Linked DNA regions of Homo sapiens: region 1 is linked to region 2. Evidence: fine-mapped expression QTL. A gene starts in region 2. The other region holds a variant in brackets. All regions are shown on one strand. Distances are from middle to middle.

Region 1 (10,358 bases), 89 kb after region 2:
ATAGAATCATTTTGCTAGTACTATACTCTATTGTATACTGTGGCTTCAGAGTAAATATTAAAATCTAGAAATTGTAGTCCTGCAAGTTGGTTTTTTTCCTTGAAATTGTTTGACTATTTTGTGTCATATGCTTTTCACATATATATACTTTTTTTTTTTTTTTGAGACAGCATCTCACTCTGTCACCCAGGCTGGAGTGCGGTGGTGTGATCTTGGCTCGCTGCAACCTTCACCTCCCGGGTTCAAGCGATTCTCCTGCCTCAGCTTCCTGAGCAGCTGGAATTATAGGCACGCGCCTCCACACCTGGCTAATTTTTATATTTTTAGTAGAGACGGGTTTTTTCCCGTCTGTTGGCCAGGCTGGTCCCGAACTCCTGGCATCAAGCGATCTGCTGGCCTCAGACTCCCAAAGTGTTGGGATTACAGGCATGAATCACCACACCCAGCCCCACTTTTCATATAAATTTAATAATTAATTTAAATATTTCTACTAGAAATCCTTCAGGAATTTTGATTTTGAACTTTTATATGTGTTTTTTATTATTGTTATTTTTTGCTTTATTGAATTGGCTAAGACCTCCAGCAATTCATTGAATGAAAAGTGTTGAAAGTGGACATCCTTGTCTTATTTTTGATCCTAGAGGTATTTCAAAATTTTTGCAGAGAGTCTAATGTTAGCTGTACGTTATTTGTAGACTTTTTCTTTAAAAAAATAGAGACAGGTTCACCCTTTTTCACCCAGGTTGGAGTGCAGTGGTGTGATCAATGCTTGACCTCCTTGCCTCAAGTGATTATATTGTCTCAGCCTCTCAAGGGATTCTCCTGCCTCAGCTTCTCAAGTAGCTAGGACTACAGGTGCCTGGTATCACACCTGACCTAAACTTTTCTAAAAAATCAGATTAAGGGCCAGGCATGGAGGCTCACACCTGTAATCCTGGCACGATGGGAGGCCAAGGCAAGTGGACGGCTTGAGGCCAAGAGTTTGAGACCAATCAGGTCAACATGGTGAAAACCCATCTGTGCTAAAAATACAAAAATTAGCCAGGTGAGGTGGAGCACACCTCCAATCCCAGCATACTTGGGAGGCTGAGACATGAGAATCGCTTGCACCCAGAAGACAGAGGTTGTGGTGAGCTGAACTTGCGCCACTGCACTCTAGCCTGGGCAACAGAGCAAGACTGTCTCAATTAAAAGAAAAAAATTAAAAGAAAAAATCAGATTAAGGAAGTCTTATTGTGTTCCTAGTTTGAAAGTTCTCTGTAAAAATTATGAATGGATTTTAAATTTAATAAAAAATTTTTCACATCTATTTATATATACTATTTTAATCTTTATTCTGTTAATATGGGAATTTGCGTGGTTGATTTTTAAATACTAAACCAACTCTACTTTCTTATAAGTAACCCTATCTGGTCATGATTGAACATTGTTCGAGTTTACTGCTAATATTTATTATGAGACATTAGTATTCATTTTCTCTTCTTGTAATGCTCTTTCCAGTGTTTGGTATAAGGAATATTCTGGCTTAAAAAATTAGTTTGGAAGTATTTTATTCTCCTCTATTTTTTGTAAGTACTTGTTTAGTATTGAAATTATTTTTTCTTAAAGAAGATATTTTCTTTCATATTGGAAGACATCTTTCTAAACTTTGCAGCTGTGTTGACTTTCACTTCTACATGATTTCTTTTTTCTTCTTCTCCTTTTTTTCTTTTGAGATGCCATCTTACTCTGTCACCCAGGCTGGAGTGCAGTGGCGTGATCTTGGCCCACTGCAACCTACGCCTCCTAGGTTCAAGTGATTCTCCTGCCTCAGCCTCCCAAGTAGCTGGGATTACAGGCACACGCCACCATGCCCGGCTAATTTTTGTATTTTTAGTAGAGATGGGGTTTCACTATGTTGGCCAGGCTGGTCTCAAACTCCTGACCTCAGGTGATCCACCCACCTTGGCCTCCCAAAGTGGTGGGATTACAGGTGTGAGCCACTGCTACTGGCCACTACTACGTGATTTCTAACAACCTGTTTGGATTCAATATTCTTCTTGCACAACTATCTGTCCTTTAGGAATAATGTGACAGTAAGAGTGAAAGTGCAAAAATATAGTCAGTTGTTTCATATCATTCACTAAAAGTAATTGTTCTCATGCATGCATTTGGGAGCAGTCATCTTAAGAAAAGTTTACTACAGTCAAATGTGTCTGAAAGACATTGTTCATTATATCTCTTTCTCAGAAGGCAGAACACATGTAGTACATTAGAGACGTCACAAGGTCCTGAAGAAATGAATTTAACTTTGTATAACCCAAAGGTTTCCAATATATTTCTCCTAGAATTCTTTTTACTTGCACAATACATTTTAAAATCACTCAGAAACGAATGCTCCATGTACAGCAGTTTGAAAAAGCATGGACTAGAAAGTACTGAGACTGAAATTCATTAAGCTAGAAAAGAGTTTAATAAAATAGCTTCTCCCAAATCATTTCAGGGCTGCTCCATTTCAGCAACATTTCTAATCTTTAGCTATATTCCTTGGTGATGTTTTACAGTATGATGTCCAAATTGCATGCATTTTAAATTTCCATAAAGTGAATCTTAGTCATTTTCCTTGTAGAAAATTAACAGACTAAAATTAATTGTTCATCAATCCGGAGTCTTCCTCCCACTCCTTCTCTCCTCAATGAAAGAAGAAGGAGCTGGAAATGGCATGTTTCTTAACTGATTATCTCAACTTTAATCATCCTCTGCACTGGAAGGTCTGATGCCCACAAGATACTTTCACTGTTTTCAGTTATGAAGAATGGTCATTTGTATAATTTTGCTGGAGAAAAATTGCTTCTATATACAAAACCCAAGGAAGAATATTGCATCTGTAATATCTAAATACATAAGTAACCTCTTTTTGTCCTAGAATCTTAAAAATTGGCCTTTTTTGATTTCCAACTTTTAATTTCAGGGGCACATGTGCAGGATGTGCAGGTTTGTTACATAGGTAAACATGTGCCATTGTGATTAGCTGCACAGATCATCTCATCACCTAGGTATAAAGCCCAGCATCCATTAGCTATTCTTCTTAATGCTCCACCCTTCCACAGGCCCCAGTGCGTGTTGCTCCCCTCAATGTATCCATGTGTTCTCATTATTCATCTCCCACTTATAAGTGAGAAGATGTGGTATTTGGTTTTCTGTTCCTGAGTTAGTTTGCTGAGGAAAATGGGTTCCAGCTCCATCCATGTCCCTGCAAAGGGCATGATCTTGTTCCTTTTTATGGCTGCATAGTATTCCATAGTGTATATGTACTACATTTAATTTATCCAGTCTAACATTGACAGGCTGGATAAAGCCACAATTTGCAATTTTTTGATAAGAGTTTTCTCCTCAATTCCTTCCTAATTTTACAAATTTATAAAAATGAGTTCTAGCATAGATTTTTAAAATTCACAATCTGTTTGAAATTACCAAATACATTTATCAACTTTCAATCAAGGTGAACAGATTATTCTAATGAATTTTTTTTCTCTAAGTCTCTGCACATTTTTCTCTCTGAGGAAGAACAATTATGTCAGGCTTCTGACAAGCTTATGACTGACAATTGATTAATATTATTTTTAGTGTGTTTCCAATGCTGGTCTATGATGTGTTCTGTCATAGAAACTTTACTTTTCTATATCTTCAGATCTTTTTTCCACAATCAAGAATAGATACTTTGGGATTTTATTTATTGCACACCTAGTAAACTGGCTAATCTGGTATCTTCATAGGTTACGCATATCTAATTTAAGGGATAGTACTTGTTTCTTTCATGCAATGAAGACTGCAAGAATATTATATATTTTTAAAATTCTTGTATGTTTTTAATTGATGAAAAATGTCTAATTAATTATGTATAGATTGCAAACTGAATTACTGTAAACTCCTTAAGGGTGTCAACTGTATAACCTTAGCAGTCAAGCAGAATGCTGGGCACATTTAAATGGCTCAACAAAAGTGTCAACAGATGATAAAGGAAGGATGATTTTCTGAAAAAAATATTACCAGTATTGCAACCTTGTGCCATATCATGCATCACTGGGCATTAAGAGACAAATGAGAAAGCTGGGATTGAAATATTAAAGAGATATTAAGAATTGACATCATTGTCCAAGCAAGAGAGTATATTCAAGTGGAAGTAGGATATTAGGCAAGAATTATATTTAGTAATCGCAAATATAATTCAAGATAGCAAGGGCTACAGCCAACAAGCAAGGCAGTCAGATTGACATTTCTTTAGCCATTTTTCTTAATTTCCAGACAAATATAAATCCATCCTTTTTGATCATGGTTGGAACTCACTGTTTTTTTAAATTGCATGAAGTTGTGGTATCCTACAATTTTATAACAGTCTTTGTTTCTAATACACCACTTTCAAGCTTTCAATGATTTGCAAATGAAGAGACTACATATATTTCTTTTGACAGTGTCTGAAGTGTTGGTATAATGCTTAACAGGAGTCCCTCATCAAGTGACTATTTTACATAATTGAATTATCTAACTAGAATCAGAGGTGAAAAGCTATGACACAGTGAAATGTGAAATTATTTTGCAGATCATAAACAGCTTTGCAAGTATGCAATACCATCATTATGAGTTCAGCAATCTGTCAAAGAAAATATTAATACTGGCAAAGAATTTACCTACAGGGTAACAGAAAATGAATACTTCTTATTGATCATGTTTCTAGCAAATTATTAAAACAGCATAATTCAGAGCATCAGGCACAAACTAATTTTGTGAATAAAGGCCCTTAGGCCACATCCTCTCTATTAAGGAAAGCTGGCCAACATTCCAGATGTACGGTTAGTTTTTAATGGGAGGGTGGTGTGAGTAAGTGGGGGATCCTGTCTCAAAGAAGTCAAGTGACATTACCCGACACTCATGCATTGACCTTCCATGAGTGGCATGGTATTGTATTTATTATAAAATGGCAGCAGGTTTTCTGAGATTAAGTAGAAAAATTGGTAAGTATTTAACTACTATCTAGTGACACAACTCTTTAAAAACATCAAATAGAGAACTGAGGCCAGAAAAATAGCAATAAAAAGTCAGTTTGAAAATTTTAAAAAAATCTTCAAATAAACAGCATGAAAAGAAGGAAACTGGGAAAATAAAATCTGAGATATACTGAGTAAAATACCTTTGGATTGAGTAGAGCTATTAGCGGGAAAAAAATAAGGCAAGAATTTGAATGAAGCTCATAAGAACTGAAATGCTTGGTTTTAAAAGTTGAAAAAAGAGGCCTTTTAAAATATTCTTAGGTAGCTGATTATGAATTAAAGAGGAAACATCACATTGAATCTAAGACTTTCTCTTTATAAAGGGAATGAAAGCTTAGCAGATTAATATTAATGAACAAACTGAATGAATGAATAAATGAATGAATGCCTACTCTCTATACACAGGTGTAATTTTAATTAGCTGTAAGAGTTAACTTGTCAAGGCCTGTGAGATTGTAAACTAGTTGAAATTGTTAGGCTTCCTCTCCATCCTTTTTTTCAAGGCCTATTTTTCCCTTATCCATTGTATGTGACTTTTAAAAAAAAACAGACTTATCCTGAACTTTCAAAAATGCAACTAAATAATAAACTCACTCA[T/C]GATTTCTTCATTCAATAAATATATTTTGAGTATCTATCATGACCTGACACTGTTTCAGGTGTCTGTAATTTAACAGTGAGAAAAACAGATAGGATATCTGACCTCATGGAGCTCATAGCTTAGTCTAGGAATTGTATATAAAATAAATAATTTCCTAAATGAATATATAAGTATATAATTATAAACCATCATGTGTACTGTATTAGTCAGAGTTCTCCAGAAGGACAGAATTAATGGAATAAAAGAGTTTCTTAGGTATTTAATGAGTTTATTAAGTATTAACTCACACGATCACAAGTTCCCACAATAGGCCTGCTGCAGGCTGAGGAGCAAGGAGAGCCAGTCCAAGTTCCAAAACTGAAGAACTTGGAGTCTGATGTTCAAGGGTAGGAAGCATCCAGCATGGGAAAAAGATGTAGGCTGGGAGGCTTTCACATTTTCTGCCTGCTTTATAATCGCTGGCAGTTGATTAGATGGTGCCCATCCAGATTAAGTGTAGGTCTGCCTTCCCCAGCCCACTGACTCAAATGTTAATCTCCTTTGGCAGCACCCTCACAGACACACCCAGGATTAATAGTTTGCATCCTTCAGTCTCATCAATTTGACACTCAGTATTAACCATCACATGTGCTATGGAACAATATGATTTCTGTGAGAACATATGACTGGGTTGGTTAGGGAAGACTTTCATAAGAATATAGTATCTGAGAGAGAGCTGAAGAATTAGCAGATAATAACTATTTGGGGAAACAGGCATTCATAATAATTTATGGAGAGTGTTTTAGGCCAAGGGCACAAAGAGTAGGGCCTAAGAAGCATGTTAAAATACTTGCTTATTAATGAATTATATTGTATTTTCTCAAGGATTGTTTTTATTTTAATGGAGAACTTTTCCCCTTCTTTGACTGTATTATAAGTGATCTAACAAATTTTTCTCATTATAATTCAAGCAGCTTAGAATTATACATGTTAAAAATATATAATAAAATGCATAATTATATACATTATTTTATAATTGTGAGTGGAAAATCGTTATCTCAATTTCCTAAAAATACTTATTATTGCATTGTTATGCATTAAGACATAAATTTCATACATGTGCACACACACTTTATTTTCTCTAAAATGGTTTCATACTATATGCAGCAATTTGCAACTTGCTTTTTTACTTAACAGTATGACTTGAACACTTTCCCTGCCAGTATGTATAGTCATTATTCATCTATTTTATGTACACATGTCATTCATATACATATGATATGTGAATATATAAATTCATAAATGTTAATACGTATGATACATGAATTCATATATAGTATATATGTGATGTGTGAGATATTGTTACATATATACTGACTATATCATGATTTCTATAACCACTGTTGTATAAATGCACATCTAGATTGTTTACAAGGTTTTTTTATTTTGGGTGATGCAGCCAAACATATTCTTGCACACAAAAGTTTTTGGATCTGTATGAGTAATTTTTTAGAAAAAAGTTTCTGGAATTAGAATTACAGCTTCAAAGTACAAATTTTAAAAATTTGACAGCTATTATAACCAAATTCTATTCCTTTACAAGAAGACTTTTTATTAGCTAAAATGTACAAGGATAGCTTGTACATTTTCTGCACACTTGACAAACTAAATATAATTATCTTTAAACTTTTAACAGAGGGCTCTGAAATCGGAAGCATCTTCTGTACAAAATTGACTGCTTTTATAATTCAGTAGGTAGTATCATTGTTTGGATCAGGATATACAAAAAATAAAAAGTGGTAGGTATTGTGCCAAAGTAGAGAGGGCTTGCCTAGTATGGAGACATTCAAATTCGAATCCAAATACCACCACAGCCAAATGCAATATAGACCTGGGCTGGAGTCCATCAGCTGGAACTCACAGAAGTAAAGAGTCTCAAGAAGAAGATAACTGGTCCCAATTGTTCATTGTCCTTAAATCATTACAATTGGCTGTCCATCCAACATCTCATATACAGAAGGTGGGCTTTGTCTCTGAATCAGGCTGCTACACCCACAAATATGAAAATTCCTTGTTAAGAATTGCGAGGTTGGAATTTCACTTGCTGACATCTTAGAATGTGGTAAATTTTTTCTTACTCCTAGAGCAGTCAATCAACATAATAGAGGAAAAATAATACATATTTAAAGGGATCTATTATGCTTCAATTAAATTGCATGTTCAATAATGAAACAAATGGCCAGGTGCGGTAGCTCACACCTGTAATCCCAGCACTTTGGGAGGCCAAGGAGGGCGGATCACTAGGTCAGGAGTTAGAGACCAGCCTGGCCAACATGGTGAAACCCTGTCTCTACTAAAAGAATACAAAAATTAGCTGGGCAGGGTGGTGTGCCCCTGTAATCCTAGCTACTTGGGAGCCTGAGGCAGGAGAATTGCTTGAACCCAGGAGGCCGAGGTTGCAGTGAGCAGAGATTGCACCACTGCACTCTGGCCTGGGCGACAGAGCAAGACTCGGTCTCAAAAATAAAATGAAATAAAAGAAACAAACACTTTAATAATACTTACTCTGTATAATGCTTTGTACAGATCCAGCATATTAACTAAGAAAATGGATTAATTACCTTTCCAGTAAAATTCCATGAAACTGATGAGTTTTTAAAAATTCTATTCCTTTTTGTTTTGTAGAAACATAATATAATGTTTCAAATGACGGTGTTCTGTCTTATGAATTGATTGAATTCAATTCATTCAAAACATTGAAAAGTAGGACTGTTTTGTAGATTATTTGAAAAAAATTACTTTCAATGCATGAATGTTTTCCCAGCCTAGAACATTCCCTCTCTATTGTTCCCAAACCTAGTCCAAACTACATCATTGACATATTTGAAAGCCATAAGTATGAGGAACAGCTGGACAAGTTACTGATCTCAATGAATACATTTTCCTGCTTTGCACCCCAATTCTTTCCCTGTTGAGGAGCCTTAAAAATTTTCTTAGCCAGAGGAAGTAAGAGATAAAATTTAATTTTCTCCATCTCAGCATATCTACTTTAATGAGCTCCCCAGGCTTCTTTCTAGATTTGCCTAGATAACTGGATAATAACAAGATTAAAAAAATTTTACCTGTGGATAAAATCATAAAATTGGTAAAATTGGATGGGAGAGTCACCTGTAGGGGCAGTGTTAACTTCAAAGTCAGTGGGTGGGTCTGTGTTGCCAATTCATCTCAGCCATTTGTGGATGACTTCTGGTCAACTAATAAAAACTGGTTTGTTGTGTGCATTAGATGAGATAGAATGTGTACGGCACCCAGCACTGGGCCAGCACATAGCTATTAATAAATGTTACTGGATAGGAAAAGATTAAAACAATTTTTTTTGTTTCTTTCTTTCTCTTCCCTGTGGATAACCACAGTGGTTCTGACTCCCTATGCAACTGCTCCATTTTCCCTCTCCACTTTCTATGCAGCCTTTTGAAAGAATGGACTTCTCAGTGGGAACTGGTCTTCTGTGAAAGATTCATGAGGACTGCATTCAAAACAACTTTATACCCATGCTTTCAATCTGACACATTGTTTCACTTGACAAATCTCTCCTTTTACCACTCATATTGTTTGATATGGATCATCATTATCATCATCTTCTGCAAGTTTGGAGAATCTCCTAACCTCTCTCCTATCCCCTCCAACCAACTAAAAAGCAGCTTCTGGCAGGCTAAAAAGTCAGGTGATCATGTCCATATTAAAATGGTGGTTATCTGTTTGACAGACCTATGGAGCTCAACATGCACAGCAGTATTCCAGTGTAAAGTGGAAATGGTGCATATGTGATTAGATCTGAGCAAATCCAGAAGGTAGAAAAATAAAAGCAGATGACTCAAACTGTCATGGTATTACTTTCTACTGCTTCATTGCTTCTCCCTCCACTCGTATCTTTGAAGTAGGACTAGTTTTTATCTGTAACTGTATTGTATATTAGCAGAGTTGATCCAGGAAGTAGTGAGGAAATCCTTTAAATAGCGCTTTAGATTGTGCCTTTGGTCATTTACTTCAAGTGGGCAGAAGGCCTGAGATACAAATCTACAGATTTAAGAACAGAGGCTAATATATTGCTCAAATGGTCAAGAATATGGAAAGAACAAATATTGTAAACTTTACAAGGGATGAGGGGTATATAGTAAGGGTATAGAGAGTGTGATGAGATCTATATCCCATACAAATGTTTATCAGAGGTCTACAACTGACTAGAGGGGTCTCCAAGGCACTCTTTCCAGATTTTCCTTCAGGTTTGGGGCCTCATTCCCCCAACTACTGGTCATGTTGGCCACCACTGATAAATCATGGCTGTTTCCTTCTCTTAGAATTACCCTGAATGATAAGAACTGACTCACTCAAGGATGGCTTCCCTGTCCAGGGGCAGACCACATTCAATTACTAGTAAATGTAGAGGTAAAGCCCCACCCCTCACCTTAATGTAATTTCACTTTGAAAGCCCCCAAATAAAGAGCTCCCTGTGGAATCAACTGAGGCTTCTGCTTAAATTGTACTGTTTTTTCCTTTTAGAGTTACCAAAGCAGGCTGGGTATGGTGGCTCATGCCTGTAATCCCATCACCTTTGGAGGTCAATGCAGGCAGATCACTTAAGGCCAGGAGTTCAAGACCAGCCTGGCCAACATGGTGAAGCCCCATCTCTACTAAAATACAAAAATTAGCCAGCTGTGGTGGCACGCACCTGTAATCCCAGCTACTTGGGAGGC
Region 2 (10,273 bases):
AAACACTTGCTTTTTTTTTAAGAAGTCTTGCACTGTCGCTTGGGCTGGAGTGCAGTGGTGCGATCTCGGCTCACTGCTGCAACCTCTGCCTCCCAGGTTTAAGCGATTCTCCTGCCTCAGCCTTCCAAGTAGCTGGGACTACAGGCACCCCCCACCACGCCCAGCTAATTTTCTGTATTTTTAGTAGAGACGGGGTTTCACCATGTTGTTCAGGCCGGTCTCGAACTCCTGACCTCAAGTGATCCTCCTGCCTCGGTCTCCCAAAGCGCTGAGATTACAGGCGTGAGCCACTGAGCCCGGCCAACACTTGCTCTTATAACCCAGCCACCACCATAGGAGGAAGGCCAACACCGAGAGGAACTGAAACCCCAGGAAAGTCTTAGCTGAGCTCCCAGCCAAGAGCCAGCACCAACTGGCCAGTCTGGTACATGTACCTAAGTCAATATGCTGCAGCCCACACTGTGTGGACAAGACATGAGCAAGCCCTGCCTAGTCCCTCCCAATCCCAAATTTTGGAACAAATTAATTGAGTAAAAAATTTACCCCAATACGTTCTGTGTAACATTCAAACTCTTTACCATGCCATTTTTAGTCCTTACCAACCTAACTCTGCCTACCTTTTCATACTTCTCTCCTACTACTCCTTAATCAAATCTCCCTCTCTAGCTAGATTTGATGATTTCCTGAACACACTTTGAGTAATTCTGCCTCCCAAACATACACTGTACCTTCTACCTGAGCAGCTCTCTTCTGTCTCTGCCCACCCTCTCAGATCATGAGCCACCTTCTTTTCAAAATCTTCCTAACTATTCTACTTCATTTCTCTCTAAGTCTGTGGCTCTTTTGCTCTGTCTCATTTGGTACTTATTTATAGCTTGGGTCCATTAATCATTTTCTTCTTGATATTCTTTATTAAAATAACATGTAATTTAGCGCTACTCCAAATCTCATTCAAACTGTTTGCCATAATCAAGTGTGGAAATTGAAGGTAATCATTTAGAAACTTTTGTAGCAATTTGATAGAGTAATTTTATGCACATTGAACCTTATCATAAAATAATTAGCCTTGTCTTTGCCATATCATTTTCTAGTAATTAGTATTTTTTTAAAAAAGACTTTTTTCAGAACAGTTTTAGGTTTACAGAAAATTGAGCAAAACATACAGAAACTTCTTATATAATCCCTGCCCTTCCCCATTCCCTGCAACCTCTAGTATTAACATCACACACCAAACTGGTACATTTGCTGTAATTGTTGACACATCATATTACCCAAAATCCATTGTTTACATCAGAGTTCACTCCTGGTATTATACCACAAGGGAGTTTGACTAATAATTGATTTTTAATTGCATTTTACAAAAGTATCAGTTATGACTGATTAGAAATAAAAAGCAAAACTGGTCTAACAGAGTTTGAGAAGTACTGTTAACAATGAAACCTACTTGAGGCACTAGACTATAGCACAAAGTTTCTCAACCTCAGCACTATTAACATTTTAGATGGATCATTCTTTGTTGTGGAGACTGTGGTGTGTATTGTAGGATGTTTAGCAGCATGCTTGGGTCTACGTAGACCGTCAGATGCTAGAATACTTCCAACCCCTGAGTAGAGCCAATCAAAATTGTTTCCAGACATTGCCAAATGTCTCCTGGGTCAAAATCAACCCAGGTTGAGAACACTACCATAATGGTTAAGAGCAGTCCTGCAACGAGGGTAAATTGTTCAAGCTCCAAATCTAGCCCTGCCACTTAATTAACTGTATATCTTTGGGCCAGTAAATTAACTCATTTTCCCCATTAGTAAAACGATTAATAAAAGTACTAACATTAAAGGCTTTTGTAAAGCAAAAATGATGTAACAAAGAATATATAAACCACCTAGAACGGTATTTGAGACATAGTAAGAATCCAATAAACAAAAGACATTGTTTCTATCACTTCTGGGCTACTCACAGTGCATATAAAAATGAATAGGTATTTTGTCCCATTCTTAGATCCAAGGGAAACCACAGCTTAGTGATAGTGCACAGGTAGAGACAGATATGAAAATAATTACTATGTGTATTTATAAATGTTATAAAGAGGCAAGTGAGCGAATGACTGTCTTAAACTGGTTTGTGCTATGGGTAAGAATGTACAGGCATAACTCTTTTTATTGTGTTTCACTTTATTGAGCCTCGCAGACACTGTATTTTGTTGTTGTTGTCTTACAAACTAAAGGTTTGTGGCAAGCCTGCACTGAACAACTATATTGATGCCATTTTTCCAACAGATTGTGCTCACTCTTCACATTTCTGTGTCATATTTTGATAACTCTCACAATATTTCAAACCTTTTCATTATTATATCTGTTATGGTGATTGATGTTACTCTGTAATTGTTTTAGGGCACCATGAACCATGCCAATATCAGACAGAGAACTTAATAGGTAAATGTTGCGTTGTGTTTTGACTGCTCCACCAACTGGCTGTTCCCTGCCTCTCTCCCTCTCCTTAGGCCTCCCTATTCCCTGAGACACAATGATATTGAAATTAGGCCATTTAATAACCCTACAATGGCCTCTAAGTGTTCAAGTGAAAGCAAAAATCACACCTCTCTCACTTTAAATTAAAAGCTAGAAATGTTTAAGCAAGGTGAGGTAGGCATGTCAAAAGCCAAGATAGGCTGGAAACTACACCAGTTAGCCAAGCTGTGAATGCAAAGGAAAAGTTCTTGAAGGAAATTTAAAGTGCTATTCCAGTGAAGACATGAATGATAAGAAAGCAAAAACAGCCTTATTACTGATAGGGAGAAAGTTTGAGTGGTCCGGGATTGAAGATCAAACTAGCCACAACACGCCCTTAAACCAAAGACGAATTCATGGCAAGGTCTTAACTCACTTCAATTCTATGAAAGCTGAGAGAGGTGAGAAAGCTGTAGCAAAAGAGCCTGAAGCTAGCAGAGCTTGGTTCCTGAGGTTTAAGGAAGTAAGCTATCTGCATAACATGAAAGTACAAAGTGAAGCAGCAAGTGCTGATGCAGAAGCTGCAGCAAGTTATCCAGTTCTAGGTAAGATAATTGATGAAGGGGCTACACTAAACAACAGATTTTCAATGAAGACAAAACAGCCTTCTATTGGAAGATGCTATCTAGGACTTTCATATCTAGAAAGAAGTCATTGCCTGGCTTCAAAGCTTCAAAAGACAGGCTGACTCTCTTGTAGGGGCTAATATGGGTGGTGACTTGAAGCCAATGCTCATTGACCATTCTGAAATATCCTAGGGCTCTTATTCTTTTAAATCTACTCTGTCTGTGCTCTGGAAATGGAAGAACAAAGCATGAGTGACAGCACATCTGTTTACAGCACGGTTTACTGAGTATTTTAAGCCCATCTTTGAGACCTACAGCTCACAAAAAGATTCCTTTCAAAATAATACTGCTCAATGACCACGTACTTGGTCACCCAAGAGCTCTGATAGAGATGTACAAGGAGATTAATGCTGTTTTCATGTCTGCTAACACAACATCCATTCTGCAGCCCATGAATCAAAGAATAATTTTGACTTTCAAGTTATATTATTTAAGAAATACATTTTGTAAAGCTATAGCTGCCCTAGACAGTGATTCCTCTGATGGATCTGGGCAAAATAAATTGAAAACTTCTGGAAATGATTCACCATCCCAAATGCTAGTAAGAACATTCATGATTCACGGGAGGAGGTCAAAATATCAACATTAACAGGAGTCTGGAAAAAGTTGATTCCAACCCTCATGGATGACTTTGTAAAGGTCATGACTTTGTTCAAGACTTCAGTGGAGGAAGTGATGAAAGATCTGGTGGCAATAGCAAGAGAAATAGTGGAGCCTGAAGATGTACCTGAATTGCTGCAATCTCATGATAAAACTAGTGGAAAAGAAGTTGCTTCTTATGAATGAGCGAAGTTCTTGAGATGGAATCTACCCCTGGTGAAGATGCTGTGAATATTCTTGAAATATCAACAAAGAATTCAGAATATCACAAAACCTTAGTTGCTAAAGCAATGGTAGGGGTTAAGAGGATTTACTCTAATTTTGAAAGAAGTTCTACAGTGGGTAAAATGCTTTCAAACAGCATCACATGCTACAGAGAAATCTTTAGTGAATGGAAGAGTCAACTGCTGTACAAAATTCATTATTTTGTTATTTTAAGAAACTGCCACAGCAACTCCAATCTTCAGCAACCATCACCCTGATTGGTCAACAGCCATCAACATCAAGCAAGACCCTCCACCAGCAAAAAGATTAGGACTTGCTGAAGGCTGAGATGATTAGTAGCATTTTTTAGCAATAAAATATTTTAAAATTACAGCATGTAATTTTTTTTTACACATAATGCTATTGCACACTTAATAGGTTACAATACAGTGTAAATACAACTGTTATATGCACTGGGAAACCAAAAAAATCGTGTGACAGGCTTTATTGGTCTGGAACCGACCCCGCAATATCTCGGAAGTATGTTTGTACATTATTCATAGAAAAAGTATTATTCTAATAACATTTTGAAATATTTAGCCAAAAAGTAGAAAAATGAAGCATCCAAGGGAAAACAGTAAAACTCGGACGGCAGGAAAGCTCGGAAAAAACACAAAAAACCTGGCGTGTTCAGGGACAGGATAATCCAGCGAGGCTTTTAATGTGTATAGGAGAAGTGAAAAGAAATAAGGCTGGTACAGTAGTTTGCCGCCAGACTATATGCTTTAGGAGAGAGGGAGGCATTCTAGGTTGTCTTGTTTTTCTTACCAGCTTGTTGATACTCATGGGACTCAATTACCTCAATTTAGACCTCTATGTGGGCACAAGAGTGAGTAGGACTCCTGGAGAAACACAGACACTAATGTCCAAGGCTGCACTTGACTTCACTAGTGCCCGCGGGAGAAATTTAGCAATGAGGATGAGCCATGAGGATGATTCGGGAGAAATAGGAAGTATTCATGGCTTTGCTCCCTCCCCCCTAATCAAACATCTCAATCTCAGGATCCTAAGGGCAGATCTTTTAGGACATCGGGCATTTCCCCGTAAGCAATCCCCCCTCGCTATCCTCAAATGCAAACTGCGGAGTCTGCCACAAACGCGTTGGCTTTAAAACTCATCCCTGAACTTTAGATCCACCCAGCCGGTTAAGGATATCACGACTCACCACTGATTCTTCTTGCACCCTTCTGAGAGCCGCGCTTAGAGTAATTCGCGCCCAAACATTCGTAAACAGAGGAGACCCGGAAGTGGGTGGGAAGAAAGCGGAAACGGGCATCTAACCCTACCCCTAAACGTCATCAGGAATGCGCCCATGAGAGCGCTATTAGATTGGCTGGAGGGAGGGCGGTGTCGGCCTACGCCCCCAGAGTCGTCCGGCTGACGCTGGCGGTGGCGCGGTTTGTGTGGGCTTGGTGAGGGCGGGGAGGCCTGGCTGTGTGGATGTCTGACAGGTGAGGCGGGGGACGCAGAAGTGCAGCCGCCCTCTCCCACAGCGGAGTCCAAAACAGGCCTACCAGTGAGTAGGACGTACACCTTTCAGATCGCTCCATTCTTCTGGCTCCTGTCCCTCCTCTACCCCTGTATTTTGAACTTTTGTCCTTTCTCTCCCGCTCTGTCCTTTACTTCTGTCTTCTTTACCTTCCTACTGTGACGGGATCCCACTCTCTGCCTTCTCCTTAGGTTTAGATTTTCACTTCGACCAACCTCTAGTTTTGGGCGAAGTCCCTGGCAATTCGGAGGTACTTCTGGAAAGAAGGTGCTTTTAATACTTTAGGGGCCATGTCGGTATCTTCTTTGGCCACTTAAGCACCCTGAACTGTTCCCGTTGGCAGAGGTCACTTTTTGTATGGTTCCAAAGGGATGCGCCTGCTTCATGGCTGCCTCCCTTCTAGGTTGTGGGTTATGTTATTGTCAGGGTTTTTCTAAGAGTTTTCGGGAATAAAAGTGATTTTCTGTGTGTAAACAGGATTAAGAGTGTAAACAGTGTTAAGAGTGAGAGGTAGAATAGAAAAGACAGGTCTAAATTGACATAAAAGCTTACATTACTAACTCGTTCTCAGTTTTATCTAGAAAGAAGGTGGTCTTAGGGAAGCTCGAAGCCCTGGATAACGTATGTGTGTAAAGTTTTAAACCACTTGATGATTTTCTGCCAATATAATTTTGTGTTTAATGATGTACTTATGCTAATATCAAATATAATTTTCATGCCCTATGTTTCCATCTCCAAACCCAACTAGTTGAACATCAAAGTACCTTCTTGAAGTATTAATGTGCAATCATACGTCAGCAGCCAAAGCTTGAAACTTATTGGTTCAAGAAATCTTTTTCTCACTGATTTGTTTTTGAGGTGTGGGGGTGGGATTAATCATTGCTCTTTAACTCATTTTAGTTGTCAGTAACATATTTGCTTTGCATGTTGCTTCTTTGAATGCTTGAGGCCTCTCTTGATGGTCTTCTGAGAAAATTCAGAGGTCGTATTGCCATCCGCAGTAGTTGTGTTTTTATCTAAAAATGGTGTCTGTTTCCAGCCTCCACCAATTCACATGTGATTTTCAGGAAGTCACTTAAACGGGGCTCTTTCCTATTAGTTGTTCAGATTTAGGAAAGCCCACGTGAAATGAGTGTGATATTTCCTGCCAACAGTTTAGTCTCAGGTGGTTTTCAAATTACCTTTTACAGGATTACTATTGAAACAGTTTAGTTGTTGCTTCATTATTTTTTTCATCCACCTTTTAAGCTAGTAAATGTAGTGGATGGCTTGCAAAAAGATGGATGACAAGGACCCCATGGATTTAAAGAATAAAAATCGTGCTAGTATTAAAAAAATGGAAGGTTTTTTTGTTTTGTTTTGAGACGGGGTCTCTCTCTGTTGCCCAGGTTGGAGTGCAGTGGCACGATCTCTGCTCACTGCAACCTCTGCTTCCCGGGTTGAAGTGATTCTCATGCCTCAGCCTCCTGAGTACCTGGGATTACTGGTGTGCGCCACCATGCCCAGCTAATTTTTGTATTTTTAGTAGAGACTGGGTTTCACCGTGTTGGCCAGGCTGGTCTTGAACCCCTGACCTCAGGTGATCCACCTGCCTCGGCCTCCTGAAGTGCTGGGATTCCAGGCGTGAACCACCATGCCCAGCCTTTTTTGTTATGTTTCCATTTAGACTTTGTTCTATGTACTTTTTACATAGTTGAACCTGTTGCACTTACAATTACGTGTCTTGAGTCTTTTACTTACTACTTTTTGAGTTTGTTTCTCTTTTTTTGGGAAACTATGCATAACACATTTTTAACTTTTTACTTATACATATATTTACAGAAACTGCATAAAACATAACTGTATAATTTGATGAATTTCCACAAACAGAATATATCTATGTAAGTGGCAATCAGATCAAGACCATTACCCCCAAAAGCCCCTCTCTTGCTCCTGTTGTATTCTAGCAACCATTAAGTAACCATTCTTCTGACTTCTGACATCAAAGATTAGTTTTGCCAGCTTTCTAAACATATTTTGATAACTACATGAAATTCTATCATTTGTATATGCTGTAATTCACTTATTCATATGTTATGAGATACTTACGATTTTCCTAAGTTTTCTCTATTACAAATAAAACTATAGGAAACATCTATTTTATATATTACTACAGAAGCTTTCCCAGGAGTAATGTTCCTCAGTGGAATGGCATAAACATTTCTGAAGCATTTCATGTATATTGACAATTTACTTTCCAAAGTAGTTAAAATAGTTAATACTGTCACCAGTGGTTTATGTCTCTTGTTTAACGACCCCATAATAAGTGTTGAGTATTGATTTCATTTAAGCTTTACTAAACTGATAGGTAAGAAGTGGTATGGAAAATAAAATTTGAAACTCCCTTTACTTGTTGCCTTATCCAGTATAAAACACATAGTATAGTGAATATATTAATGTTTGCATCTCAATATCTTTTTAAACAATGGGCTCTATATGTTTACGCTGTATGACTCTGACAAGTTTTAGTAATTCAGGTAAACAGTTTACGGCTTTGTGAGGTGGGATTTTGATCAAGCGACTTTATTTCTCTGAGCCTCAGTTTCTACATCTGGAAAATGATGACGCTGAACCCAGCAACCTAGTATAAAAGTCTATGCTAGTTATCCGGAATATGCAGCTCTAATGTTGGAGCAGTTTATAAACTAGCACAGAAGTAGATTATTGAAGAGGCCATTTAGCTCACCTTATGGGTTCTGGGATGAATTGTGTGCATATTAGTTAAATGCAAGGACTTTGAAACAGGCTGCATAGGTTCCAATCAATGCTGGCTCTTCTGTGCCTCAGTTTCCTAATCTGTAAAATAAGGATAATAATAGTACCTACCTCTTAGGGGTATTGTAAAGATTAAAATTGCTACTCTCTGTGATGTCTTTATAGCCTTCTATGTTACTGGCACATAGAAACGCTGCAAATTGGAGATAATGCCTTAGCTGAATTAGCCAGAGAAGAACATTTTAGGCAGAAGGAAGAGCAAGAGCAAATTCAGAAAACTTTGACATATGTGCAGCCAACTGTAGGTAATCCAGTATTTCTAGTGCACAAAATGCATAAAGAGGACAAAGACAGAGATGGGTCTGAGGGGGAAACAGAGACCAGTTCATGAAGGCCTTGAATGCCTGTTTGTCTTATTCATCACTTTTTTCTCTATTACCCAACATAATGTCGGTCATAAACTGATATTTAATAAAAGCACTTTGAATGAAAAAATTAATTAGGAGGCTGTAGTATATCTTCCACATGATACAGAGTCTTTGAAAAATTCCATGAGGAGTGTGACATAGTCATATTTACATTGATGTCATTGTATGGAAGGGATTCGTATAGAATGGAGTAGAAAAGGAGTAAGACTGGTCAGTAAGACCAGCTAAGAGGCTACTGAGGAAAAAGACTGAAACTACAGGACTGATAGTAATTGTGAAGAAGAGGGGCCAAAGTTATAAAATATCAGGTGCAGGAAGCAGAAAAGGGGAAGAAATGAAATCAGACTAATACATCCTCTTTCTTTTCTGTTCCTTTCTTATGAGTAGCTCCTATTTCCCACCCCCTCTTCTAAATGTTTTTACTCTATGTTTCTTTTTCTAGGTCAGTTCTTATTTCTATTGGGTGTTTCCATGCTCCACCATGTTAAGAGCTAAGAATCAGCTTTTTTTACTTTCACCTCATTACCTGAGGCAGGTAAAAGAATCATCAGGCTCCAGGCTCATACAGCAACGACTTCTACACCAGCAACAGCCCCTTCACCCAGAATGGGCTGCCCTGGCTAAAAAGCAGCTGAAAGGCAAAAACCCAGAAGACCTAATATGGCACACCCCGGAAGGGATCTCTATAAAACCCTTGTATTCCAAGAGAGATACTATGGACTTACCTGAAGAACTTCCAGGAGTGAAGCCATTCACACGTGGACCATATCCTACCATGTATACCTTTAGGCCCTGGACCATCCGCCAGTATGCTGGTTTTAGTACTGTGGAAGAAAGCAATAAGTTCTATAAGGACAACATTAAGGGTGAGATTTTAATGTAAGACATAATATTTATGATAAGTCATATGCCTCCTAGTTTTTTATTTTTTGGGGGTTAATCTCTGTAAAGATGATATTCACTCTATAATTTTGTAGTTAAAGACTATACTCTGAAAAAAGTGGATTTTTTTAACTTCTGTGGTCAAAAAGATAAGTGAATTAGAATAAGGTGCTAAATTTTTGAAAGAAAACAACACATGCACGTTGTTTAAAAGGAATTAGGTGAGGTAAAGTTGCATGAAGAAAAGAAGACATTAGCTTTGCCTTCGAAAAATGTTCAATTAACATTGTTGGGATAGCGATTGGAGAGGAAGATAGTTTAGATGATGCCCAAAGAAAGTGTAAATGTGATAACGTGGTACAAACATATTCAGTGCAACCTGGCATTCATTCACTGAAAATTATCTTAACTATTATTTCTTCTTTCTGAGCTGTAATAAAATTGTACTGTTTGAATACTAAACTTGTAGATTTATAAGTTTGTATTGCCCATGGAAGGTTGAACTTACATTTAGTATAGACTATTTTAGTTATTTAAAAATTTTGTACGATGGTCATAATTCTGTTTTCCAGAATATTTGAATAGCCAGGAATCCTTTGTGACCATATTAGATAAAAGAACAAAATAGTAAGCAAGCATACAAATGCTAAGTTATTTTTGCCATATATGAACAGCCAGATCTTTTCATGAATTTTAGAAATATTTCAATCAAGTACCATATCTTCA

Evidence for each region.
Region 1: its variant is fine-mapped to the expression of MMUT in whole blood (INTERVAL, PIP above 0.99).

What each region holds. Positions count from the first base shown.
Region 1 is chr6:49,369,784-49,380,141 of GRCh38, reverse strand. No RefSeq gene overlaps it. Among named protein-coding and RNA genes, the nearest start is that of MMUT, 88 kb to the left of the region's middle. The variant T/C (reference allele first, on the strand shown) is at 5,625.
Region 2 is chr6:49,458,340-49,468,612 of GRCh38, reverse strand. It overlaps MMUT (methylmalonyl-CoA mutase), which reads left to right and starts at 5,360. Exons shown (of 13, transcript NM_000255.4): 1 at 5,360-5,510; 2 at 9,108-9,531. The coding sequence starts at 9,147. CENPQ (centromere protein Q) reads right to left here and starts at 5,243. Exons shown (of 9, transcript NM_018132.4): 1 at 5,160-5,243. RefSeq lists enhancers at 4,377-5,276, 5,621-5,690, 5,277-6,177.